Linked DNA regions of Homo sapiens. The protein of the gene in region 3 interacts with the protein of the main gene of each other region in a pairwise test. Each region holds a gene or a part of one and is shown on either strand. Other genes may lie near its edges. The genes, in order: SPRYD7, ZMYM5, CAMK2B and TNPO2.

What was found.
Region 1: the proteins of CAMK2B (region 3) and SPRYD7 interact in binary tests that used the Homo sapiens proteins (3 or more experiments, as listed by UniProt).
Region 2: the proteins of CAMK2B (region 3) and ZMYM5 interact in binary tests that used the Homo sapiens proteins (3 or more experiments, as listed by UniProt).
Region 4: the proteins of CAMK2B (region 3) and TNPO2 interact in binary tests that used the Homo sapiens proteins (3 or more experiments, as listed by UniProt).

What each region holds. Positions count from the first base shown.
Region 1 is NC_000013.11:49,933,316-49,941,372, forward strand, and holds the start of SPRYD7 (SPRY domain-containing protein 7), read right to left. Parts: upstream 3,026-8,057; 5' UTR 2,921-3,025; coding exon 2,815-2,920; intron 1-2,814.
Region 2 is NC_000013.11:19,822,982-19,825,649, forward strand, and holds the end of ZMYM5 (zinc finger MYM-type protein 5), read right to left. Parts: intron 2,255-2,668; coding exon 1,496-2,254; 3' UTR 501-1,495; downstream 1-500. UniProt on the Homo sapiens protein: Functions as a transcriptional regulator.
Region 3 is NC_000007.14:44,322,541-44,330,080, reverse strand, and holds the start of CAMK2B (calcium/calmodulin-dependent protein kinase type II subunit beta), read left to right. Parts: upstream 1-4,486; 5' UTR 4,487-4,659; coding exon 4,660-4,724; intron 4,725-7,525; exon of another isoform or gene 7,526-7,540. UniProt on the Homo sapiens protein: Calcium/calmodulin-dependent protein kinase that functions autonomously after Ca(2+)/calmodulin-binding and autophosphorylation, and is involved in dendritic spine and synapse formation, neuronal plasticity and regulation of sarcoplasmic reticulum Ca(2+) transport in skeletal muscle.
Region 4 is NC_000019.10:12,720,933-12,728,223, forward strand, and holds the start of TNPO2 (transportin-2), read right to left. Parts: upstream 3,001-7,291; 5' UTR 2,837-3,000; intron 2,434-2,836; 5' UTR 2,317-2,433; intron 1,629-2,316; exon of another isoform or gene 1,545-1,628; intron 1,328-1,544; exon of another isoform or gene 1,202-1,327; intron 59-1,201; 5' UTR 46-58; coding exon 1-45. UniProt on the Homo sapiens protein: Probably functions in nuclear protein import as nuclear transport receptor. Serves as receptor for nuclear localization signals (NLS) in cargo substrates.

The DNA.
Region 1 (8,057 bases), on a different chromosome or scaffold from region 3:
CTTGGCCAGGCGAGGTGGCTAACACCTGTAATCCCAGCTCTTTGGGAGGCTGAGGCAGGCAGATTACTTGAGGTCAGGAGTTCAAGACCAGCCTGGCCAACATGGTGAAACCCCCATCTCTACTAAAAATACAAAAATTAGCCAGGCATGGTGGTGGGCGCCTATAGTCCCAGCTACTCAGGAGGCTGAGACAGGAGAATTAATTGAACCCAGGAGGCGGAGGTTGCAGTGAGCTGAGATCAGGCCACTGCACTCCAGCCTGGGCGACAGAGCGAGATTCCCTCTCAAAAAAAAAAAAAAGAAAAAAAAAGAAAGAAAGAATATTCAGGGTGTTTATGAGTCATTAGGGAATCATTTTAAGCTTATCCCATTTCTCTTAAGTACACAGACGGTTTTAGAATCTGTACTTTTAATGATTGGTGCTGCTTAGACGGTCAAGGCAAATTTGAGTACAGCCAGAATGCCACATAAACATAGCCACAGAGGATGTTTTAAGAAACATAAATTTCCAAATGAGCGGTGTCCCTTTCAAAGTAGCTGCCTTGGAAGTCATTTGTTTCTAAAATGTCGATTCACAATTAAAAGCCAAAGATATGGCATCAATGATAATACTTACAAAAATTATGCCATAGAAAATTCCAAAAGAGGAATTCCAAAGTGGTTTTAAGTAATACAACATCACTAAAATAAGTGACAACCCTCGGAGAATCACTTGAAGTATACAGACAATTTTGTTAAAAAAAAAAAAGCAATCACATTTTTTAGGTTATTTAATATAATAATCTTTCACACCACCAAATCCATGTGTTTCTATTTTCAAGTCAAGATCAATTCATGCTTGAAACATGTTCTTCTAACTCAACAACCCTTTTCTTTCATTTTATTCAGGTTCTCAAATCAGGCTCCTCTGTGATTGAATAATTTAAGTTTATAGAAAGACAGGCTAAGAAAAAACTTCCTGGCCGGGCGTGGTGGCTCACCCCTATAATCCCAGCACTTTGGGAGGCTGAGAGGCAGGCAGATCACGAGGTCAGTTCGAGACCAGCCTGACCAACATGGTGAAACTCTGTCTCTACTAAAAATACAAAAATTAGCCGGGCTTGATGGTGGGCGCCTGTAATCCCAGCTACTCAAGAGGCTGAGGCAGAAGAATTGCTTGAACCCGGGAGGCGGAGGTTGCAGTGAGTGGAGATTGTGCCACAGCACTCCAGCCTGGGCAACAATAGTGAAACTCCGTCTCAAAAAAAAAAAAAAAAAAAAAAGAAAAGAAGAAGAAAAAACTTCCATGCAGTTAGAAAATTTGGAGATGACATTACTCTATTTCATCCAGTTAGTAGCTGACAGTTGCTGGACAGCTTTGGAGAAATAAAACACAGTGGAATGAGTATATCTGACCAGCTCTTCCTAGAGGAAACAGATGACAGAGAAAAGGAATGCTCCAAAGAGGAGACTGCAGTAATTCAAGAGTCTAACAGTAAAGATAGGAAGAAGTGCTGCAGTTGATCATGAGTTCCAGGAATTATGTATGGTTGTCCTTCACTATATTCTCAGCACTTATAACAATGCCTGCCACCTGATAATTGCTTAATAAATATCACTTCAGTAAATGAGTAACTGAAATGGAAATATTTTCTGAGGAAAACTATAGAATTTGAACTCCATCGTCTATAAATAATGATGGATAAAAAATAATTTAAAGATTACTTATGTATTAAGGTTCTGTACTACATTTGGGAGATCTGAGAATTAAAAGTAAATACACACATACAAGGTGATTATATAGTTATCACATTTAGTATGTGTTATACAAAAATACAGTGGGCAGAGTGTTTCCAGAATTATAAGGAAACTGGGCGAGAGAGTTTTATCATAAATATTAAGAAGTGCCTTTTTATTTCAATGCACTGTCCTTTAAACAATCAGAAACGTGTAAAAAATCAAAAGTGCAGAAGTACAGTTAGAATAAAATAATCCACAAAAAGACAGTACTCTAACTGAAATAATTATATTGGGAAATCTCTCCTTCTAGAACCACATTCCAGAAGCATGAAACTACCTGGGAAAAGTCTAAGAAATAATAAGGTGGTGAAAGAGGCTATGATGGGAGAGGAAGAATGTTAGATAAATTATATGGATTTGGAATTAAAAGGATAAAGCAAGATGCAAAGGAGCAAAGTGCTATTTTATTTTTCAACAGTTAGACCTGTTGGGAAGAGGCCAGTCAGATGAAATTACAGTACCTCTCACAATGACTAAGGAGTCGGGCAATGGGAGGTTTTAGTTGAAATGGCAAGTTCTGACCTGAGGTGCGACTTCAGACTTCTGCAGTCTGCCTTGTTTCGACTTTAGGAGGTGAGAGGAAAATTACTTCCAATAATATAGGATTCAACCTATAAATGATGGGGCTCAAGAGACAGGACCGACAGTCAGGGCAGGAGGAGGAGCAAGACCGGACCTAGAAGCATTCTGAAAATGTGTAGGTTTTCACTGGGGCGCGCCAGAAGGGCACTCTCCGCCCCCTCGCCCGAGGACGTGTGACATCTCCGGAGGAAGCCTCCGAGATTCCTGTGAAAATGGGAGGTCCACACGCCCATTCGCGATGACAGACACAGAGAGGGCTGCGCAGCCTTGAACACAGAACCGGGCCCAGGTGGAGTCCGCCGGCTTCTGGAGAGATCTGCGAGACGAAATGGTGTCGGCGCAGCGTCGCCGGCGCGGCGGGGCAGCGTGGGGACCCTCTGACCCTGAAGGTCCCCCTGCCCGCCGCGCCCGGCCCCCGTGAGCCGTTGGGTCTGGGGAAGGGAGGGCCCTTACCCATGTGCTGCGTGTCCAGCTGCACGGCCGGCATCTCCTTCAGAGGGATGTGGCCAGTCCCCCCGTCTCTGCAGCACCGCAGGCAGCACAACACCGAGGTGGCCATCGCGCAGGGACCACCGACTCCGCCGCCGTCCCTAGACCGAGGCGACACTGCCCCCCGCCGCTCAGCTCCGTCTCCTGCCCCCGCCCGAGGTCCGGACTTGTCTATGTGGAGCTCGGAGGCCGGTACAGCGACACCCTAGGCCGGGAGGGCGCAATGCAGGCTGAGCTTAGGCTGGCCTGCGAGGAAGACGCGGAGAATCAAGGGGCCGGGGAGAGACCGGACAGGGCGAGCGGCCGGGCTGGGCCGGGGAGACGGGTGGGGCTAGTGGCGCGCGGAGGCGTGGCAGGGGGCGTGGCGTTGCGGGCCTGCGGATGTGGGACGGCGTGCGCCTGCGCACCAGCTGGTTTTTTCTCCTTGGGCGGTTTCGCGCACGCCCCCAGGGCTGACAGGTGAGTGGGGCTGTCTGTCCCTCAGTACTTCCAGGGGTTTTCCTATGCAGAATTTTTAAAACGCAGCACCCCTTGGTCCCGGCCTCGACATTATTTCTAGGGATGGATTGACAGAAGCGAATCAGTTTGGGGGAAGGGGAGCTAATGGAAATGACTTCCGAGTTTTCCCTCCGCGGGCCCAGGTTGAGCAGGCTTTGCCACCACGGAGAGCCCCAGTCTCCCTGCCGTGGCTGGTTTCCCTCACATGCTAAATAGACTCACGTGGGCCCCAGGAGTAATGCCTGTTAGTGACTGCACTGTGGATGTTCACCGGGGCTCACGCGGGCCCTAATGCATTTTCGGTGCAGAGACGCGCCCTACCTGGCCCATCGGGCTGCGTGGTCCGGGGCGCGTGGGAGGCCGCCCTGGGAGCAGAACGCTGGGGCGGGGTCGGGGGCGATTCTTGACCTGCCTCTTCCAAGCTCCCCCTGTCTGGTGCACTGAGGGTTCCGAGGAATGTGACGGGAACCCAGGAGGCTGCGGGAAGTCTGCTGGGTCCCGAGGGAAGCCTTCGGCTCCTACCGTCCGCTACTTTCTGCTTCCACACGGGAGGCTGTCACCTGTCATCTCCTTCCCCACTTAGATCATCCTTCCGTGGTAGATTTTACATCTTCAGGCCGGGTGCAGTGGCTCACGCCTGTAATCCCAGCACTTTGGGAGGCTGAGGTGGGCGGATCACCTGAGGTCAGGAGTTCAAGACCAGGATGGCCAACATGGTGAAACCCCGTCTCTACTAAAAATACAAAAATTAGCTGGGTGCGGTGGTGCACGCCTGTAATCCCAGCCACTCAGGAGGTTGTGGCACGAGAATCGCTTAAACCCGGGAGGCGGAGGTTACAGTGAGCCTAGATCGCGCCACTGCCCTCCAGCCTGGGCAACAGAGACTCTGTCTCCAAAAAAAAAAAAAAAAAAAAAAAGATACCGCTTGGCATCTGGAAATGTCTGGGACGACCTCTAGAATTAACCTAGCTCAAACCTCTGTTCCCAGATCAGTTTCATCCTGAAGGCTTCCCTAGGGATGGATCATCAAGTCCTGGGAAACTGGACATAAAATGCCCACTACTTAAATAATGATTTCCCATACGTAACTTTTAGTGACCCGAGTTATAAATGTTTTTTAAGGAGGATTTCTATCTATGCAATGAGGGGAATTTTTCAGGTTCCTGGTTCTCTTTCTATAAATGGTGTTTTCATTACAATACTAAGGGAAAGTTTTGTACGTTGAAATTAAGTTACCATAGAATTTAATAACCAAGGTGATTATTAAACTGATTGAGGGTTGGTCTTTTCCCCCATTGCGTATGCAGTACTTTCTTGGTAATCATTTCACACAAGAAATTTTCTTTTATGACAAACCTTCATCGTTATGCTGGGAATTAAGTGCTTTGATTTTTTTTTTTTTTTTTTTTTTTAACCCCAGGGAAGTGCTGGGGGCGGGGCAGGGGGTGAGAATTTTAACAGAATATTGGAGAGACAAAATTTTTCTACCGTTCATATATATATATCTAGTTGAATTATTTCAAGATTTCAAGGTCAGTATTGTCCCCATTTTATAGGTGAAGAAATAGGCCTAGAGGTACTAAACTTTACAACTTCAGGTGAGCAGGAGATAAACAGGTAGGATTCAAGGCTTACCAGTCTGATTCCTGTTAGAAGAAAAACTTCAGCTGAACTAAATTTAAAGGAGTTAAACTGAGCAGTGAATGACTGGGCAGCCCCCAGAATCACAGCAGATTCAGAGAGACTCCAGGGATGCCTCGTGGTCAGAACAAATTTTTAGACAAAAAGAGGGAAGTGACGTACAGAAATCAGCAGTGAGATACAGAAACAGCTGCATTGGTTACAGGGGGGCGTTTGCCTTATTTGAACACAGTTTGAACAATCAGCAGTGTATGACTGGTTGAAGTATGGCCGCTGGGATTGGCCAAGACTCAGCTATTGTTACAGGTGCATACTCCTAAATTAGGTTTTCAAGCTTGTCTGCCTATTAACCTAGGTTACAGTTCGTACACAAGGACTCAAATACAGAAGTACAGAGTCCTTCTCAGGCCATATTTAGTTTGCTTTAACACTGCCTCTCAAATTCTTTCTCTTATAATTAATGCTATAATCCTCTTAAACATGCTCTCAGTTCAAAATGCAGATTTGCCCTTTTTTGTGTGTTTCATTTATCTCCACATTGGATATAAGCTGCCATAATGCATGTATAGACAAAATATAATAGAATTAGTTGTTATAAAGTAAAAATTTTGTTCAGAAATATTATTAAAAGAAGTACATGTATTATATATGTAATAAACATTTAGGCCATTCAAGTCAGTCACATCTTCAATGAAAAGCCAGACACTAAATGGCCGTGAATTGGACATTACTATAGAGAGGCAGAAGGGCCATAGTCTTTCCTAGCTGGAAAAGTAATTTGCTGGGGCGCTGCCCGGTGCACTTTGCCCCCATCCTAGCAACTCGAGTGTGCTCAGCAGAATGAAGTTAGCAAAACTGGTTAGCTCCTGAAACAGACTTCCCTGTCTTGGCAGATTAACACCATCCATGAGCTCACTTTTCCTTCTAATATCTGGGATTCTAATATCCATTCATTATTACTTTCAAAGGAATTATCCTCTCTTTTTGAAAAGCACAACGTTAAAGATGTTTTGACACTCTTTCACAGCTATCGCTTTAAATAACAATCACAAATAAAGCCAAAAATAGTTTCTCAAGGTCATTTATCTAAGTCATAAGCAATAAGAAAGAATGACTACTTCAAAAAAAGAGTCTGTCTGCTTCCAAGACATGCCAGGAACTCGAGAACTGAGAACAATAATGTAAAGCTTGTGTTTCAGAGTTGAGATTAGCATTATGCTTAAGATTTTCTTTAATGTTTTTTATGCCAGCTGGACGTCTTCTGTTAGTGAATTTCCCATTCTGTACTGGGTCATACGAAATGAGTTTTTAAAAACTCATTAATCAGTTATTAAACAAAACATTTTTCCTTAGACTAATCCAAACCACATTTGTGATCTTTTTAAAAATCAGAAACATTAACAAAAACTCATTTTTCTAAAAACTGACATATTTCTGGAGCCTTGACCAATTCATTATTATAATTTTGAGTAACTAATAGTGATTGACATTTATGTAGTGCTTATTATTGCCAGGCACTGTTCTAAGTGTTTTTTAAAAATAAACTAATTTAGTCTTTGTAACAACCATGTGAGGGAAAAACTATCCTCCACTTTACAGATGAGGAAGCTGAAGAAAAAATAAGAAATGTACTCAAAAGTTGCACAGTCAATGAAGGATGAAGCTAAATTCAAACAGACATTCTGGCTCTAGGGTCTGTGTTCTTAACCACTCTGCAAACTGCCTCCTAGGGTGTTACATTTAAAAATACATTCCTAGGTCTGGTGCGGTGGTTCACGCCTGTAATCCCAGCACTTTGGGAGGCCGAGGGATATGGACTGCCTGAGCTCAGGAGTTCGAAACCAGCCTGGGCAACATGGTGAAACCCTGTCTCTACTAAAAACAAACAAAAAAATTAGCCGGGCATGGCAGTGTGTGCCTGTAATCCCAGCTACTTGGGAGGCTGAGGCAGGAGAATCGCTTGAACCCAGAGGCGGAGGTTGCAGTGAACCAAGATCGTGCCATTGCACTCCAGCCTGGGTGACAGAGCAAGACTCTATCTCAAAAAAAAAATAAAAAAATAAAAAATGAATATACATTCCTAATTTGTATTTGTCTCCTTCTATCCCCTTTCCTCAGAGACTGACATTTAAATTTACTTGGCATGAATTGTGCTCATTTAATCTGGATTTCCTGAATTATAAGTTATATTACCTAGATTGAACAACCAAAAATAAATAAGGAAAATAACGTCAACCTTGTAACTGCAACAGACTGCCATTAGTTGGTTCTCTTAGCGGTGCCTTTGAATATTAATATTTTGCAGGTTTGTCCTTAACAGGCTGTCTCTACCGGAAAAAAAAAACGATATTTAGTACTTTTTTTCTTCTTTTTCTTTTTTTGAGACAGGGTCTCACTCTGTTGCCCAGACTGGAGTGCAGTGGCACCACCACGCCTGGCTAATTTTTTGTGTTTTTTATAGAGATGGGGTTTCACCATGTTGCCCAGGCTGGTCTTGAACTCCTAGGCTCAAGGGATCCACTCACCTTGGCCTCCCGAAGCGCTGGGATTATAGGCATGAGCCACCCTGCCTGGCCTGTTTAGTACTTTTTTTTTTTTTTTGAGACAGAGTCTTACTCTTGTCGCCCAGGCTGGAGTGCAATGGTGCGATCTCAGTTCACTGCAGCCTCTGTCTCCTGGGATCAATCGATTCTTCTGCCTCAGCCTCCTGAGTAGCTGGGATTACCGACGCCCGCCACCACAACCAGCTAATTTTTGTATTTTTAGTAGAAACGCACTTTGGGAGGCTGAGGAGGGCGAATCACCTGAAGTCAGGAGTTTGAGACCAGCCTGGTCAACATAGTACTTTTAATTGCTAAGACAGGTAAACCAGGTTGGAGACTTGGAAAATGCAGAGACTTGGCATTAGGAAGAAAAAGAAGCTGGGGTAAAATAAAGGAATTTGAAAAAGGTACAAAAGAAATAAAAATAGAACAATTTTTTTAATATTTAAAATGAAGAAAAAGCAATAGCAAGTGCTACATAAAAAAGGTCTCAGAGAATAGAAAATGTGATTTACCAAAAACTTT
Region 2 (2,668 bases), on a different chromosome or scaffold from region 3:
AATGGTGGCTGGGCATAGTAGCTCAAGTCTGTAATTCCAGCACTTTGAGAGGCTGAGGTGGGAGAATCGCTTGAGACCAGGAGTTGAAGATCAGCTTGGACAACATAGTAGACCCCATCTTTATTTAAAACAAACAAACAAACAAACACTCAAAATGGTTAGAAGTTAATGAGGATTACTTTCACGGGTATTCCAAAAATATATACACTGGTATCATTGAGAGTCTGCAAGTATTCCTAGTGTCATCCCACAAGAACGCACCTTCTGTCCTAGTCACTGCTCATATGCCATTTTGTTTCACAGGAATAGTATATAAAAATTTAATATATTACAAAATTGACATCAGAAATCAGAAACAGAAGGGAGATTTACTAAATACACAGTGATGGGGCTGCTGACCATCTAAAATAACTTAAATCCTTAATTTTCATTGGTGTATCTCAAATTTCAAGCATGCCATCTCTTTTCACAGGGAGAAAAAAGCCCATAACACTTGAAGGTTAACTTAATATATACTTATTTTAATATTTTTTATATTTTTATCAACATAAAATAGGTAAATATAGTTCACATACAATAATAAATGCTAAAACATTTACAAATTAAAATAAACATAAAACCAATAAAATGGAAATTAACCATCATTAACATAACAAATAATGCTGTTTTGCTCAAACAAAGTAGATCACAAGTATTTGGTTTAATAGCAAAAAGCTGTAGTTTCAGATCCCATTCTGTAAACTGAGTAGTTTTACTTTAATAATAATGTTGAGAATGCTTGTTCACATAAGTATCTTATTCAAACTGGTATTGATCAATTCAAGCCTTTCTTTCCTCTTTCAAGGTAATTAGAACATAATATTTTTCTTTCTTTTGAGACTGACTCTCGCTCTGTTGCTCAGGCTGGACTGCAGTGGTGCAATCTCAGCTCACTGCAACCTCTGCCTCCTGGGTTCAAGCGATTCTCCTGCCTCAGCCTCCTGAGTAGCTGGGACTACAGGTGTGTGCCACCACACCTGGCTAATTTTTGTATTTTTAGTAAAGACGAGGTTTTGCCACGTTGGCCAGGCTGGTCTTGAACTTCTGACCTCAATTGATCTACCCGCCTGAGCCTCCCAAAGTTCTTGGATTACAGGCGTGAGCCATTGCGCCCGGCCAAGAACAGAATATTAACCAAACCCATCAAATGGCAGTCATTAAATGCCAATTTTTAAATAGGTGTAAATTGATAGATTTTGAAGATTAACAATTACCTATTGTTAATCTTCATTGCCTAATGAAGTCATTGCCTAATGATGATTGAATCTAATTAGTTTTAGATTTAGAATGGAAACATTCTTTGCTATTTATTTGCTATCATACTTATTGCTAAGGAACTGCTGCAAGTTACTCTGTAGAGGAGACTTACAACACAATAGTACTGACTATTGCAGGACAGATGTTTTCTGAGTAATGTAAGATTCTGATCATCATGCCAAAAAACAACTCAGGTATATTACGTGTACAACAACAGCACACCATCATTTTTCTCATTTTCATATAATCTGTGTTCTGCAGCATCAATAGCTTTATTTTTTTTCAGATCAGATTTTAATTTTGAGTACTTAACACTATTGTTGACGTGCATTTCACTTTCTTCATGTTTACTAAGAATATGTGATAAATGTTGCCAATCTTTGCACCCATTTTCATTTTTCAGTTGATTTTTTCCTTCCCCAAAGAGTTTGCAATATAGACAAAACACAGAATCTTTTGAGGTTGAATAAAGTAACCAGGATCTAGTGGTTTTTTCACCATTTGGAAGAATCCGTGTATAATAAGTTTCTGAAAACTTCCTCCCTGTATTATCTTTTGGAAAGTTAAAATTTCTTACTTGAGGCGGAACATTTTCAACAAGAGTGTCCCGTTGTTTAATATTCAAAATTCGGGGCCACGTACCTGGATCTGCGGAAAGCACAACTGGTACAATGGAGTCTTCAAAATTTTTCTCTTCCAGTTGCTCTTGAAATGTATCAGCTATGGTTGACGTGGAAGAAGGAGGTAAATTCACATTCTCTTGGATCAGTAATGTATCCGTGCCACATTCTACTGAAAGCTGTAGCTGTGAAGTCTTTTCCTTTTTTTCTGGGATTCCCTCTATTTTTTTCAAAAGTGTATTTGACGATCCATATAATTGTTTCTCATTTTCTTCTCTAAAAGCATTCCTTTTTCTATTTTCTGATGCTGTTAATTTTTTTGATTTTGTTTCCATCATCTGAGGACAAAGAGGATTATAATTTTATTTTAGGTTAAACTTTTAAAAATTAATGTATATTCAAATGCTCAATAAGCACATGCTCATCATTAGGCATCAAAGAAATGCCAATCAAAAAGACGACGACGGTCGGGTGCGGTGGTTCATGCCTGTAATCCCAGCACTTTGGGAGGCCAAGGTGGATGGATCATTTGAGGTCAGGAGTTCGAGAACAAGTCTGGCCAATATGGTGAAACCCTGTCTCTACTAAAAATACAAAAATTAGCCGGGCCACAGTGGCATGCGCCTGTAATCCCAGCTCCTCTGGAGGCTGAGGCAGGAGAATCGCCTGAACCCAGGAGGCAGAGGTTGAGCTGAGCTGAGATCGCGCCACTGCACTCCAGTCTGGGCGAAAGAGTGAGACCCTGTCCCAAA
Region 3 (7,540 bases):
GCTTTCTGCTTTAGCACAGCCTTTGTGCCTGCAGTTGGAAGCTACACAGGGTGGGATGGAAGGGGCCTGAGTGCAGAGTCTTCTGACACATGCTAGGAGGCCATTTCCACGATGACAAATCCCTGGTGTCCACTACAGGGAAGGAGGATCTGGGAGCCACTTATGGGCCATCTGGGACCTGCTCCTATCAGCCTAACTACTCCTAGCTGCTAGATATACCTGCGTTGGGGGCCTGCCTGGGCTGGGACAGTGCCTGGACTTCTGGGGCCTAGGGCCTGAGGCAACTCCAGGAGGATGGAGGTGACACCAATGAGGACAGCTAAGGTGGGGTCAGTCAGGAAGGGTCCACCTCGCCTGGTAGCCAGAGAGTGCCAGGGGTGCTCCAGGGAGCCCCAGCCAGCAGAGGGGGGGGTGGCCCAGAGCCTCAGCCTGGCAGCAGACTTAGCAGGGGTTGCTCTCACTTCCCTCCCTTTGCCCAAGGGCACAGTATCTCCGGGACAGGTGCTGGTGTCCAACTTATGCTTGGATGCTTGGTGAGAAGGGAGGAAGTCTAGGGGGTTCTCACCCTATGTTCTCGGGCCAAGCCTCTGAGCCAAGCCTGTGGATGCTGCTCCCGGCCCAGGGCCATAATGGTTAGTTGGCTTTATCACTTTGCTTGTTAGTCATCAAGGTGGTTCCAAATCCCTTGGAGGACTCAGGTGACATCTGCCAATAAGCCACTGACAAAATGCCCTTGCTGGGTCTGACTGCTTCACCCTCTTCCCCACCGTCTTCATTCCCTAAACACACCAGCTAGTGCCTGCCACAGGGCCTTTGCATGGCAGCCTCTTCTGCCAACACCCTGCCCTTTGGCTCTCAAGGGTAGCCTCTCTGTTTCATTCAGACTTCAGCTTAGACATCACCTCCTCAGAAAGCTCTTCCATGGACTTCCACTCTGAAGTTGCCACCCTGTCACTCTCTAGCACACCACTTTGTTTTAAATCTACATACAACATGAGTACTAGATGCATTCTTGTTTGCTTGTTATCAAGCTCTGCAAAGGCAGAATCCTTTTCTATCTCATTCCCTGATGTGACTGAGTGCCTGGACAGAGCTGGGCACACAGTAACTGCACAAAGAAGGCTGGTGGACACCCCTAAGCAGGACACAGTGGTTAAAGGAACCAGCCACAAAGTCAGGCAGATCCAGATGCCAATACTAAACTAGCTGTCTGACCTGAGGCCAGTTAGAGTCTGTGTCTCAATTTCCTCATTTGTAAAAGGGAGGCAATGATAATGCTATGAAGTTTATTCAAAATGGTGGATGTTGGACTTTTAGAATGGTTTAGGGCAGGTGATGAGTGAATTGTAAATTGTAGCTATGGCCTTCATCATCACCATCACCATCACCACCATCATCATTGTCACCAACACCATCATTATCACCACCACCATCACCATCCCCACCACCACCACCATCAGCAGCACCACCATCACCACCACCATGACCATCACCATCATTGTCACCAACACCATCATTATCATTATTACCACCACCACCAGCACCACCATTACCATCATTATCATTATCACCACCACCACCACCATCATTACCATCATTATCGTAACCATCACCACCATAGCCACTCCATGTGCTTGCCACTGTGTCCTGTATGGGCTGCCATGTCAAGGGCCAGATGATGGGAGATGGATGGACTAGGGTCTTCCTGCTCTGGGAACCACAGCCTGCTCTCCCTGGTGGATGGCTGGGCCTGAGAGAGGAGGTGCAGTGACACCCTTCCACATGACAGCAGTCCCTGGAGGTGAGGGGGACAGGGGAGGCGTGGCTTTCTTTGGGATAATGAACCCCATGTGCAGCACTTTTGGCTCTGCAGATGTGATGCTTGTTGCCATGGTGACCGTCCTAACAATAACCTCCCAGAACTGATATTCCCCACACCCTCCCCAGCTGCCACCTGGGAGGGAGAGCCCTCCTCGCTTACGAAAGCAAGCTTGAAAGGACAAGGTGGGAGGCAGAGATGACACGGGGGTTGGGGTGGAAGTGGGCCCTTCCTGAAGGCAGGGGTGGGAAGAGGGGGAAGTCTGGGCCTCTCTGACCAGAGCCAAAGCCAGATGAGAGGGCTTCTGGAATCTGGGACCAGAGAGTCATGGCTGGAAGTCTTTCTCCCTTCTACCCATTTTCCTATGATAGGGAGAAGCCGTCTGGGTCTGAGGGTGGGGACTGGGCTGTTTTTTGAGTGTTAGTGTGGGGTCAAGCTGTCTGGGTAGGGACAGTCTGGCTGCCTCTGATAGCCCAGCCCTTCCCCACTGTCTGGTGCCCAATCATGCCAACCTTCCTGCGCTCGCCAGGGTAGCTCTGCTTCATACCTCTAATATTTCAGCTCGGAGGAGGGACTGCCTGGGGGTCCCAGGTGCTAACAGGTACAAAAGGCGGGAAGAAGTATAGGATACAATGAATCTCAAATTGCATCTCTTAGTGACCCCACATTCTTGTGTAACCCTGGTCCTGGGCAGCTTCTCAACTTTTGAAAGGTGACCTCGGCCGGGTGCAGTGGCTCATGCCTGTAATCCTAGCACTTTGGGAGGCCGAGGTGGGTGGATCACCTGAGGTCAGGAGTTTGAGACCAGCCTGGCCCACATAGCTGGGGCTGTGAGCCACTGTGAGCTTGTTACAGGCGTGAGCCACCGTGCTTGGCTTGTTATTTGTATTCTGTTGTGTGGCCCTACCTCGTCTTTCCAGAGCTCAGAAAGGGAAAATATGGATGCATCCAGCAGGTGCTGGAAGAAACTCCTGTGGGGTTAAACACAACGCCAAGAACAAACCTCAGACTTGGCCTCCAGTCCTTTCTCGAGCCCATGCCAGTCTGTCTGTTAGGATGGCCCAGGATTCTCTGAGTCCAAGTCTGACATAGACGGGGTCTCCCTTCCTGCTATGGTCCTGCTGAAGTCAAGGCCAGGATCCCTCTGCTTCCTCAGCTGGGGACTTCCCCAGGTGGCCCAGCATTTGCCTTTGGCCTGAGAATTTCTCGTCCTCTAGTGTCTTCTGGGTGCAGGTGGGTCGATGGCAGGGACTTGTTGCCGTGTGGTCTACTAATTGCCCAGCAGTCCCATGCCAAATGCATCCTGGCCCAGAAGGGCCCTGGCTGCCAGCACTCAGAATGCCTTTATCCCCTCCCTTATCCACATGACATTTATTGTGGCTTCTGGGGCTTGCCCTGGGCTGGCCACGAGGTGAGAGGGATGAGCAGGATAGGCCCAGAATTGGTCCTTGGGGAGCAGTAAGGAAGTCATATCAGGGCAGCAGCGTGACCCAAATCCAGAGCTGGCTGCTGGAAACCCCCTCCTCAGAGCCTGCCCAGGATGGACCCCGTCAGAGAAGAGTGTGGGGATGCTGGAGCCCAGTGGTCTAAAGTCCCGGTTCTGGACAGCAGCCCTGGTGCCAGGCCTCAGGGAAGGCTGTTTTGTGGGAAACCGGGTCGCCCTGCCTCCTGCCTGCCTCCCTGCACTCTCCTCCTCCTTGGCTGCTTTCAGGAGGGGGTTGGGGTGTGTGGGCCCTCCTCCTCCAGGCAAAAGCAGGGGGCAGGCAGGTGGACCGTGCTGGAAAAGGAGAGAATGTGCACCTTTACCTGATCAGGGTGGCTGTGAGCTCTCAGGCCCCCCAAATTGCTGGTGGAGCAGCCCCTGTTCCCCTGGCTCAGGGTCCGTTGGTCTGGACTCCGAATGTTGCCTCCTGGGACCTCCATTCCAGACAACCCAGCAACCAGTCTTTGGAGAAGTGAGGGGGAAGGGAGGGGCTGGGGCCAAGGGGAGGGGGCAGGCCCCACCCTTTCACTTTCTCATGCTAGTGACCCAGTGTGTACACTGCCTTCTGGGCGGTTCCTCCTGGCCAGGCAGCCTTTGGGGCATGTGTGGCTGATGGAGACTGGGCAGAAGGGATCTGGCAGCATCTCTTCCTGAGGGTGTGAGGAATGAGTCCTGTGGAGGGCAGCACATGAGCCCTCTACCTCCATGTGGGCCCCAGTCCCCTCCTGCTGTCAGGCTAGGTGGGCCTTCGAGAGAGAGAGAGGAGGCTGCGTTCATTATGTGCACTCTTCTGTGTTATGTGAGAGCGAGGGGTCGGCAGCAGCAAGTGGCCTGCGTGCGCGAGGTGCGGGCGTGGTGCGGGTAGAGGATGAAGGCGTCAGTACAGGGCGCGGGTGTGTGTGTGGGGTGCGGGGGCGGGCGGGGGCGGGCGCGCGTGTGAGTGCAGGTGCAGGTGCAGGTGCGTTGCGGGTGCGGGGCAAGGGTGTGTGTGCAGGGCGCGTGTGCAGATGCAGGGCGCCGGTGCCCTGCGGGTGCGGGTGCAGGAGCAGCGTGTGCAGGGCGCGGGGAAGGCGCGTGCAGGGGGCGGCGGGCGGGGCGGGCGCGGCGGCGGCGGCGGTGACAGCGGCGCCCGCGCCTCCCCGCGCGTAGGTGTGCGGCGCGCTCCTGGCGAGGACGGAGCGAGCAGATCTCGCGTGCGCTCGCCGCCCGGCGCAGCCCAGCCCGGCCCCCGCCTGGCGCCGCGAGCCGAGGTGTCTCCCGCGCCCGCGCCCGTGTCGCCGCCGTGCCCGCGAGCGGGAGCCGGAGTCGCCGCCGCCCGAGCGCAGCCGAGCGCACGCCGAGCCCGTCCGCCGCCGCCATGGCCACCACGGTGACCTGCACCCGCTTCACCGACGAGTACCAGCTCTACGAGGATATTGGCAAGTAAGAGCAGCGGCGCGCGCGGGCTGGGCCGGGGACCCCAGAGGGCCGGGACCTCCGGGACCCTCCGCGCCGCCGGCTCCAGGCGCACTGCGGGCCCGCGCGCCGCCGGCTTCTCTGGGCTCCGGGCCCAAGCGCACGGCCCCGCGCGGCCCCGACCCGCGAGCCCCCGGCCCCGGGCCTGGCTGCCTGACCTCAGCGCGCGCGGCCCTGCCCAGCTCTGCCCAGCGCGGCTGCCGGGCCGGGGCTCCGGGCTCGCGACTTGGCGCGGCGGGGGCGGCAGCAGGTGTCCCCGGAGCGCCCGGCAGACGTGACGCATTTGGCGGCGGGGAGGTCAGAGAGGAGGGGCGCGCGGGGGTGGCCCCCGGGCCTGGAGCGCCGGGAGGGGTCGGCTGCGGCCCCAGAGGGTCGTCCCCGACGCGGGTGCGCTGTCCCCACCCCCACCCGAGCGGCAGGCGGCGGGGGTGGCGGGACCTGCTTGCGCCTGCTCCTGCGCGTGGCCCCATCCGCGCTGGGGGTGCCGGCGTGGGAGAGCCTCTGCTGTAGGTCCCCTGGGGAATCTGGGTTCTGGAGGATTTTCCCCCAGATTCTTCTGGAAACAGGAATTTGGAGGTGTGGGGAGGACGAGGTCAGGGAGCCTGGATCAGGTCATGGGGATAGCGGGGAGAGACTAAGAGCCTGACTGGATTGCAAATTTCAGGGTCATCGAGGTGGATGGGGGCTGGATTTTGGACTGTTGGCGGGGGCGCCCTAAAGGGGAAGGGGCTTTGAAGGTTTGTTTGAAGTGGGACCTCACGGGGAACAGGTGCTGTGGCTCCCGTTCTCTCCTTGGCAGTATGAGCAGTGTAGGGCGAAGGTCTGGTTCGTGGTCCCCGGACCCGGCTTTGCCCCTGGGGTGAGATGGGGAGCGCCTCAGGGGCCTCCTGTCTGGCCTGGGGTCTCCCGTTCTGAGAATCAAGGTGGCTGCACCTGGCATCCCTAGGGCTAGCTTCAGAACTCCTGAATCTCCAGCCTGACTGGGCCAGAGCCCCATCCTCCTGCGTCCTCCCCCATCCTCCTCCGTCCCTTCAGTGCAGGCGGTGGGGGCGCTGGCGGTGCTGGCGAGATTTCCTCTTACACATCCAGCAACAGATCCTTTTTTTCCTTTACTAAATAAGTGTCTGGTGAAACCTTGTGGTGGGTGAGGGACGCTGATCATTGATAATTGTGGAGTGCGGAGCTGGAGGAGTGTGGGGGTGTGTTCATTCCCCACTTCTCCCTGCACGTGTGGAGAGAATTCTGGTAGGGGTTAGGGATGTGGAGCCCAGCCCTGCAAGAAGCCCATGCTGGATGGGTGGGGTGGGGGGCCAGGCTGGCTGGGGGACCCTTCCTTGGGTGGATCTGGAGAGCACCACAGGGCTGAGACCTCGAGGGAGAGGGCGAGCCCAGCCCCCTTCATGCGGATCCCTGAGTGGGTGGCTGGCTCCCCGGTCTTCACCCCTCAGATGCACCGATCTACCCCCGTCTGTCCTCTTGGCCTCCAGAGGTGTCCTGGCCACTGGAGGGGCAGGTGGGTGGCAGTTAATGTGCCTGGTTCTCTGAGGAAGAGAGCAACAGTGGGAAGTCAGTCTTTCCTCAGGAGCCTTCTTGTTGTCTTTTCTGCTTGCGCTCAGAAGCACAGAGGCCCTCACAGCAGGTGTCCCTGGTCTTCTCCAAAGAAGCCACTTTCAAGACCTCCCCATGTGCACCCAGTGTCCTCAGACTGCAGCTCACTCTGGCTGTTCCTTCTTCCCTTTGCTGCGAGCCTCCCTGCGTCCAGCGGCAGTGTCCGGGTGGCCAGCTCCCCGCTGAGCCTCCGATTCCAGCGCAGCTGGATGTCCTGGCCAGTGCCACCCACACTGGGGAATGGAGGTCTTTGGGGCTGCCTGGGGAAGGTTGAGAGAGGTGGCTCCAGAGGTGGAGACCAGGTGGGGCTAAGACTGCTGGGCTTCTCTGTCAAGCCAGAGAATGAGCTGCTGCTGGAAAGGAGCGAGTGTGGCCTCCTGAGCGAAAGCACTGGGAGCCATGCATTGCGAGGTGAGGAGTGGGGCCTGGCATCGAGGGGAGCCCCATGACCTGGGACAAGAGGAGATGCCCAAGCCAGGAGCAGGCAGCTCAGCCTAGTGCACCTTTGTGGAGCCCTGCTAGGCGCCGGGTCCCTGGCGACGCCAAGGGCCTACCACTGCCCTGCTGTGGCGGCTCTTGGGTAGGGAAGGGACCGATTCCTCGGGGGTGCAGCCGTGCCATAGAGGTGGGCCAGGGAGCTGGGAGGGCAGAGCAGGGCACCTAAGGGGGATGTCTGAGGCCAGGGCTCAGTTGTGGGCACTCAGCCCATTTGCAGCGCTGGGGTCCCTTGGTTGTTATGCTGGCTGGTTGTTGACAGTGCCTGCCCAGGGCACAGTTGGTGTTGCTTCCTGGCCCCAGGTGGACATGTCCAAGTTTATTTAAAGCTGCAGCCACTGGCACCCAGTCAGGTGGCGCTGAGCTCCCTGCCCAAAGGAAGGGCTTGGCCTCAGGCCCACAGCTGCTCATGTGTGACGAGGCCACTGGCCTTTCCCCTCCCTTGCCCCATCCTTTTCTGCTGTCTCTGCTCCCGAATCTTCCCCAGAGGCCTGGGCAGCAGGGTCAGCCAGCCAAGAGGGGCCGCTTTCTGGGGCCCTGCCCTGCCCAGCTCTATAGGGAGTGTGTGCCCTTCCCTGCTCAGCCTGGCAGGGCTCACAGACACTAGCCTGGTGGCCCATGTGGGAGCAGGTACAGAGCAAGGCAAGGAAGCCCTCAGCCCGGCATGGCCCAGCCAACAG
Region 4 (7,291 bases), on a different chromosome or scaffold from region 3:
CTGCAGGACCTGCTGCAGGCCCTGCTCGTCTGGCTGCCAGTCCATGGCGCAAGGCAAGCTGCGGAGGTAGGGGCCGGGGTCAGCGCTGGGTCTCTGGGGCTCCGTGTGAGACCCAGGTGGAGCCCCTGAGGCCGCGGTGGCCGCATGACGACGGGAACGCCCTCGGCGGACAGGCGGAGGCCTCCGATCCACGCCCGCCCAAGTGCGGGGTCCCCGCCAGCTGCGCCATCCTCGGCCGCGCAGTCGCGGGCTCGGGAGCGCGGGAGGGGGGATGTGGAAACGGGCCACAGGCGGCGGCGGCGGGGCCCGGCGGATCCTCATGGGACCCAGCGAAGAGCCCTCGTCCCAGGGTGGCCCATGCCGCTGACCCCGGCTCCGAGCCCGAAGGCTTCCACCTCCCTCGCAGCGGCTGGGCGAGGGCCCAGCCGCCTCCACATCCAGGGGCCCCGCCCCAGACCGTGATAGCGCCCCGGCCCCCGTGGTCTCTTCTATGCAGGCACAGTCCCTGAAGAGTCCCCTTCCCCCGACACTCTGCCCTTAACTTCTGCCAGATCCCAGAGGCCTCCTGCCCTAGTCCAATTTCTGAGCTTCCCCAGATGCGCCCTCCCAAGACGATCGTCCTGATCTCTCCTGTCCCCTGTTCCTGCCCTTCAAGCTCAGTGGATGCCAGATATCCCCCTCTGTGGCCTAGCCAAATTCTAAGGATTCCCCTTAATCAGGCCCAAAGCAGTCCCCAGGTAGGTCTCTGCTGCCTCTTCGAATGAGAGCCAGCCAAGCCCGGCCAACCCACTATAGGAGCCCCCTGGACCGATCCCAGTCGCCTTCCCCAATCAGGTCTGGCCAAGCCTCTCCCTGAAATTCCCTCCGACCCTGTCAGCAGTAACCCCTGCTGACGGATCTCTGTTGCCTCTCCCAGTCAAGTTCGGCCGAGCCCCCCACCACCTCGTGTCAGTAACCCCCTGGTCCGATCCTTGCAGCCTCCCCCAGTTCGGCCTGGGTAAACACCCCCCGGGGCATTCCCCTCAACGGATCCCAGCAACGCCTCGAAGTCAGATCCAAGAAAACCCTCTAGGCCGAAGTCTGACGCCCCTCCCTGTCAGGACCCAACGAGCTCCCCTCCCCCCACCCCGCTCAACTTTTCAGTGCGGCCTCCCCCAATCAGACCCAACCAAGCCCCACCGAAACAGGCCCCTACACACACCCGATCCTCGCGACGTCCCCCAATCAGGCCCCAAGCAGTCCCCAGACGCTTCCCCCAATCAGATCCCCTCCAGCCCGACCCCAGCAGTCCCACTGGCCCTCTTCTTGAGGAGCCCCGACATGGCCTGGCTCCGAGGCCCCACCCCCTAAGCTCTGCTCGGTTCCCCCCTCCCCCGCCCGGCCCGTTCTAGCTGCCAGGAGGATCGGGCCCAACCGGCTTCCCGGCCTTTCCCGGTCGGGCGCGGCCCCGACGCCCGGGCCGCGCGCGGCGCAGGCTCGGTGCCCGGCGGGGGTCGACGCAAGCCGGGGCCAAGAGGGTCGGGCTCTGAGTGAGGCCCACTTACCCGGCCCCGGGCAGCAGCGGCGGCAACTCGCGCTGCGGCTTCTCCAGAGACTCGCGCGGAAGGAGGGAGCCAAAGAGAGAGAATTAAAAAAAAAAAAAAAAAAAAAAAAGAAAGAAAGAAAAAAAAAAAAGAAAAACGCGGCCGTAGGTGAGCCGCCGCGGCTCCCGTACTCCGTTCAAACTGGTCCCGCCGAGCCAATCGGAAGGTTCAACCTTCACACGTGCCCTGGCACTTGGGAAACCCGGGCTGAGACAAGGTCCGGTCACGTGACCAAAGAGTTGCCGTTTCTTTGGCCTCTCTAGCCAGCCGGTCCTCCCAGTGTCTCGTTTTCCCAGCATCTTTCACTGACCTGACCGCAAGCTCTTTAGCTGGAGCCAGGAGTTTGGTAGCGCGTGGGGACTTTGTGTGTGATGGATCCAGGAACCCCTCGGCCAGAGCCAGCACCCTCCTTGTCACCTTCCTCCACTAAAAATTGAAATGTGCCTCCCTTCCCCCATCCAGAGGTACTTGGGAGGAGTACGCTGTGTGTGCGCAAGGAAAGAGCTGAGCGTGCTCTTTATACCCCAGAGACAAAGGAAAGAAAGCAGGACAAAGTAAGTGCCTGAGACAAGCCGGGTTCCTACAGAAGCCTCTGCCACTTTTTGCATTATTTTCCAGTACTGTTTGATAGTTTTTACAAGGAGATGAAAAAGCCACAAGGATATAAATTTTTGAATAAAACGAAATGAACTAATAAAATAAACTTTGAACCACGCCTAATCCCTTTCCCTACCTGAAGTTGAATGAGGTGGAACAGCGCAGGAAATTCTGGCAAGGGCAGGGTCATGAAGAAAGAAATCTTCTTGATCCTTGCGACGTCTGAAGACAGTAGGGCACCGTTTTTCCTTCTCTTGAGAGAGGAGCAGATGGTAAAAAGCTGGAGACCCTGTAGCGTCTTGGTTTCCCCTCCCTGCCCTGCCGATAACAAAGTGGGAGACCTCCTGCCACTTGAAGCCTCAGTTTCCCCACTTGTCAAATGGGTATAAGAGCAGTTCGCGCGATTAGAGATCATCCAAGTTAAGCATGACCTGGCCAGCTCTGAATTGTTCCTTAAAAACGTGGCTTTACCCTCCAAGGCTCAAGGCTGTTCTTTTACTGTATTCAGCCCCTCCCTAAGCCGATATTTAATGAATTCACCAGCTCTAATCCCAAAGAACAACCCACCCTGCCCTGAGGAACTTTTTGACCCTCGAGAGAGGCAGAGGTCAATTTTTGCCCCTGCCTGAAGGAGGGGAACAGCTATCTCAACCCACTTGCCGTAGGCAAAGTCAGTCCCGGCTCCGTTCATTCATGAAAATCAAGTCCCGGGCCTCCAAGGTTAGGGAAGTGTCGGCAGGCGCCTAACTCCACTCGGAGAATCGCGGAAGACACCCTAAAGGAGCAGTTGGGATTCCGAGGTAGCCAGTTCCGCTGGACTGAAACCTGGGCTGAGAAACACGTGCAGAAAGCCGCCACCAAGGCATGCGTAAAGGCCTCCCTCTCCCCCACCCTCCGATAAGCCCTGGAACTACAAATCCCGTCCTGCCATGCGCCAGGGTCGCCGCGCTTTGGGGTTTTGGCTGAGACTCAAATTGGCAGGAGGGTCTCTAGACCAACCGAGGTGCATGGGGAGCAGAAGAGTGAGACTGGGGAGCTGGGGCTGGATTTGGGGGTTCCTGGAGCGAGTGTGAACGATAAGAGCTTTCTGGTCAAATTTGGGGGCTGCCCCAGATAAAGATCAGATGGGGAGCGAGTTTGGGATGCAGGAGACAATTTGTTAAGGTTCACCCCCTTCATATAATATGGCAAATTTTCAGCGGCCCTCCGCAAGCCTTGGGGCAGAACAAAGTAGCCCCTGCTGCATGTGTGGTCCACATTGTTGGCCCTTGTGTGGTCACGGAATTTTTTCTTCCTCTCCAGCTGGTGAATTTGAGTGTTGAATCAGGACAAGGTTTTGGGTTTTTGTTGTTTTGTTGTTTTTGTTTTTCTATTTCTTTGTTTTGTTTTGTTTTGTTTTTGAGACGGAGTCTCGCTCTGTTACAAGGCTGAAGTGCAGTGGCGCGATCTCAGCTCATTGTAACCTCCGCCTCCCGGGTTCAAGCGATTCTCCTGCCTCAGCCTCCCGAGTAGCTGGGATTACAGGCATGCGCCACCACGCCCGGCTAATTTTTTTTAATAGAGATGGGGTTTCACAATGTTGACCAGGATGGTCTTGATTTCTTGACCTCATGATCTGCCTGCCTTGGCCTCCCAAAGTGTTGGGATTACAGGCGTGAGCCACCGCGCCTGGCTTTTTTTGTTTTTTTGTTTTTTGAGATGGTGTCTTGCTCTCATTGTCCCGGCTGAAGTGCAATGGCTCAATCTCGGCTCACTGCAACCTCCGCCCCCGGATTCAAGCGATTCTCCTGCCTCAGCCTTCCGAGTAGCTGGAATTACAGGCGCCTGCCACCACGCCAGGCTAATTTTTTGCATTTTTAATAGAGATGGGGTTTTGCCATGTTGGCCAGGCTGGTCTTGAACTCCTGACCTCAGGTGATCCACCTGCCTCGACCTCCCAAAGTGCTGGGATTACTGTGCCCGGCCCAGTTTTCCTATTTCTTTCTTTCTTTCTTTTTTTTTTTTTTTTTTTTTTTTTTTTTTTTTTTTTGAGACACTGTCTTGCCCTGTCGCCCAGGCTGGAGTGCAATGGTGGGATCTCAGCTCATTGCAACCTCCGCCTCCGGGATTCAAGCTATTCTGCCTCAGCCTCCCGAGTACCTGGGACTACAGGCACCCGCCACCACACCCAGCTAATTTTTGTATTTTTAGTAGAAACAGGGTTTCACCATATTGGCGAGGCTGATCTTGAACTCCTGACCTTGTGATCTGCCCGCCTTGGCCTCCCAAAAAGTGCTGGGATTACAGGTGTGAGCCACCGTGCCTGGCCTTTTTTCCTTTTTTTTTTTTTTTTTTATTTTGAGGTGGAGTTTTGCTCTTGTTGCCCAGGCTGGAGTGCAATGGTGCAATTTCGGCTCACCACAACCTCTGCCTCCCGGGTTCAAGTGATTCTCCTGCCTCAGCCTCGCGAGTAGCTGGGATTACAGGCATGTGCTACCACGCCCTGCTAATTTTGTATTTTTAGTAGAGACCGGGTTTCTCCATGTTGGTCAGGCTGGTCTCGAATTCCCGACCTCAGGTGATCCACCTGCCTTGGCCTCCCCAAGTGCTGGTATTACAGGCATGAGCCACCATGCCTGGCCTTTTTTCCTATTTCTTAAGCACCTACTGCATGTCAAGTGGTTTCCAAATGTTATCTCATTAATACCGGATGTGGTGGCTCATGCCTGTAATCTCAGCACTTTGGGAGGCCGAGGGCAGATCACGAGGTCAGGAGATTGAGACCATCTTCTGGCTAACACAGTGAAACCCTGTCTCTACTAAAAATACAAAAAAATTAGCCAGGAGTGGTGGCCTGCGCTTATAATCCCAGCTACTCAGGAGGCTGAGGCAGGAGAATCGCTTGAACACGGGAGGCGGAGGTTGCAGTGAGCCAAGATCACACCACTTCACTCCAGCCTGGGCGACAGAGCGAGACTCTGTCTCAAAAAAAAAAAAAAAAAAAAAAAAGGCCAAATGTTATCTCATGCAAATCTCACAACAGCCCTATGCCTGGCAAACTTACCCTAGTTCAATTAGAAGCTCTCTGTGCCAAAAGAAACTCACAGAATTGGTGTCCAACCAGCCGGGCGCGGTGGCTCACGTTCATGCCTGTAATCCCAGCATTTTGGGAGGCCGAGGCGGGCAGATCACAAGGTCAGGAGATCAAGACCATCCTGGCTAACACGGTGAAACCCTGTCTCTACTAAAAATACAAAAAAAAATAGCCAGGCGTGGTGGCGACCGCCTGTAGTCCCAGCTACTCGGAAGGCTGAGGCAGGAGAATGGCGTGAACCCAGGAGGCGCAGCTTGCAGTGAGCCAAGATCGCGCCACTGCACTCCAGCCTAGGCGACAGAGCGAGACTCTGTCTCAAAAAAAAAAAAAAAAGAATTGGTGTCCAACCGCGAATCTGAAATGTGAGACAAACGTGTTCTCAATTTACAGCAGCCTCCCTTCCCAAGCCTCTCATCACACTGTCCCCCGAGTTCAAAGGTCAGCACTTCAACTAACTTAACACAGTCCCCAAACGCAAGCCAACTTCTTCACCCTGGAAAGCACTAGCTGTTTTAAACAATGGCAGGGTTAGATTCTATGAATATTGCCCTTACTTTAGAACTTGACTCTAGAGATGCTTCTTTATTTTACCCCTATTTGATAGATGAAGAACCTGAAGTACAGAAAAGCTAAGTGACTTACCCAAGATCACACAGTCAACAGGCACTAGAATAGTCAGAAGCCAGGGCTGTGTGACTCACCAAAACCTGGATATGATTCTCCTCCCTCTTCAGACTTTTCTCAGGTCAGAGCAGGTAAGTACTGTAAAGGGATGTGCCTGGACTTTCAGCCTCTCCTGCCTCTTGACACTAGAATAGAGGCTGAGATGCTGCAGGGCGACCTACTTCCCAGGCTTCTGTTGCTTTTTAAAGATCCAGTCTCTGCTGGTGGCTTTGGGGGAGGAGGAGGTAGGGATGGCTCCATTAGCTTCCTGTGTTCCCTCCCCCCATACTCCACCCCCAAGGCCAAAGTCACACCTGGGCTAGCTTAGCATCCCCAAAGTAGGAGGGAGAGACCTTTCAGCCCACATGCAAAGTAAAGCAGAAAAACCTTATTGTGTGTTAGCAGGAAGCGAAAGAGGAAAGGTATCCTATTCTTTTTTTTTTTTTTAATTTTTTGAGATGGAGTCTCACTCTGTTGCCCAGGCTGGAGTGTAGTCACTGCAACCTCTGCCTCCCCAGTTCAAGCGATTCTCCTGCCTCAGCCTCCCAAGTAGCTGGGATTACAGGCGTGGGCCACCACCCCCAGCTAATTTTTGTATTTTTAGTAGATAGGGTTTCACCATGTTGGTCAGGCTGGTCTTGAACTCCTGACCTTGTGATCTGCCCGCCTTGGCCTCCCAAAGTGCTGAGATTATAGGCGTGAGCCACCACGACAGCTAGGCTGTTTGTTTTTTTTTTTTTTGAGACGGAATCTCACTTTGTTGCCCGGGCTGAAGTATAGTGGCACAATCTTGGCTCACTGCAACCTTTGCCTTCTCAGATTCAGGACATTCTCCTGCCTCAGCCTCCCGAATAGCTGGTATTACAGGTGCGCGCCACCACGCCCGGCTAATTTTTTGTATTTTTAGTAGAGACAGGGTTGCACCACATTGGCCAGGCTGGTCTCGAACTCCTGGCCTCAAGTGATCCTTCTGCCTCAGCCTCCCAAAGTGGTGAGATTACAGGCGTGAGCCACCACGCCCAGCCAACTTTTATTTTTTGTAGCAAGAAAGGTCTTGCTGTGTTGTCCAGGCTGGTCTCGAACTCCTGGGCTCAAGTGATCCACCTGTGTCTCGGCCTCCCCAGTCACTGGGATTACAGATGTGAGCCACCATTCTTGGCAGGGCAGGGTTTTTGTCTGTTTAGGTAGCTGACTTCACATAGCAGATGCTCATCATTTGTTACATGAGTCAGTGCTCCACCCCAACCTGCACAGACTGCATCTGGCAAAATCTGAGAGCCTGTGGTGTACCGGGGTAGGCCCACCTCAGCCCACTCCCAGGACCACAGCCCTGTGCCTTCCACCCTCTACTTGCTGAGGCCGTGTTTCTCTGAGT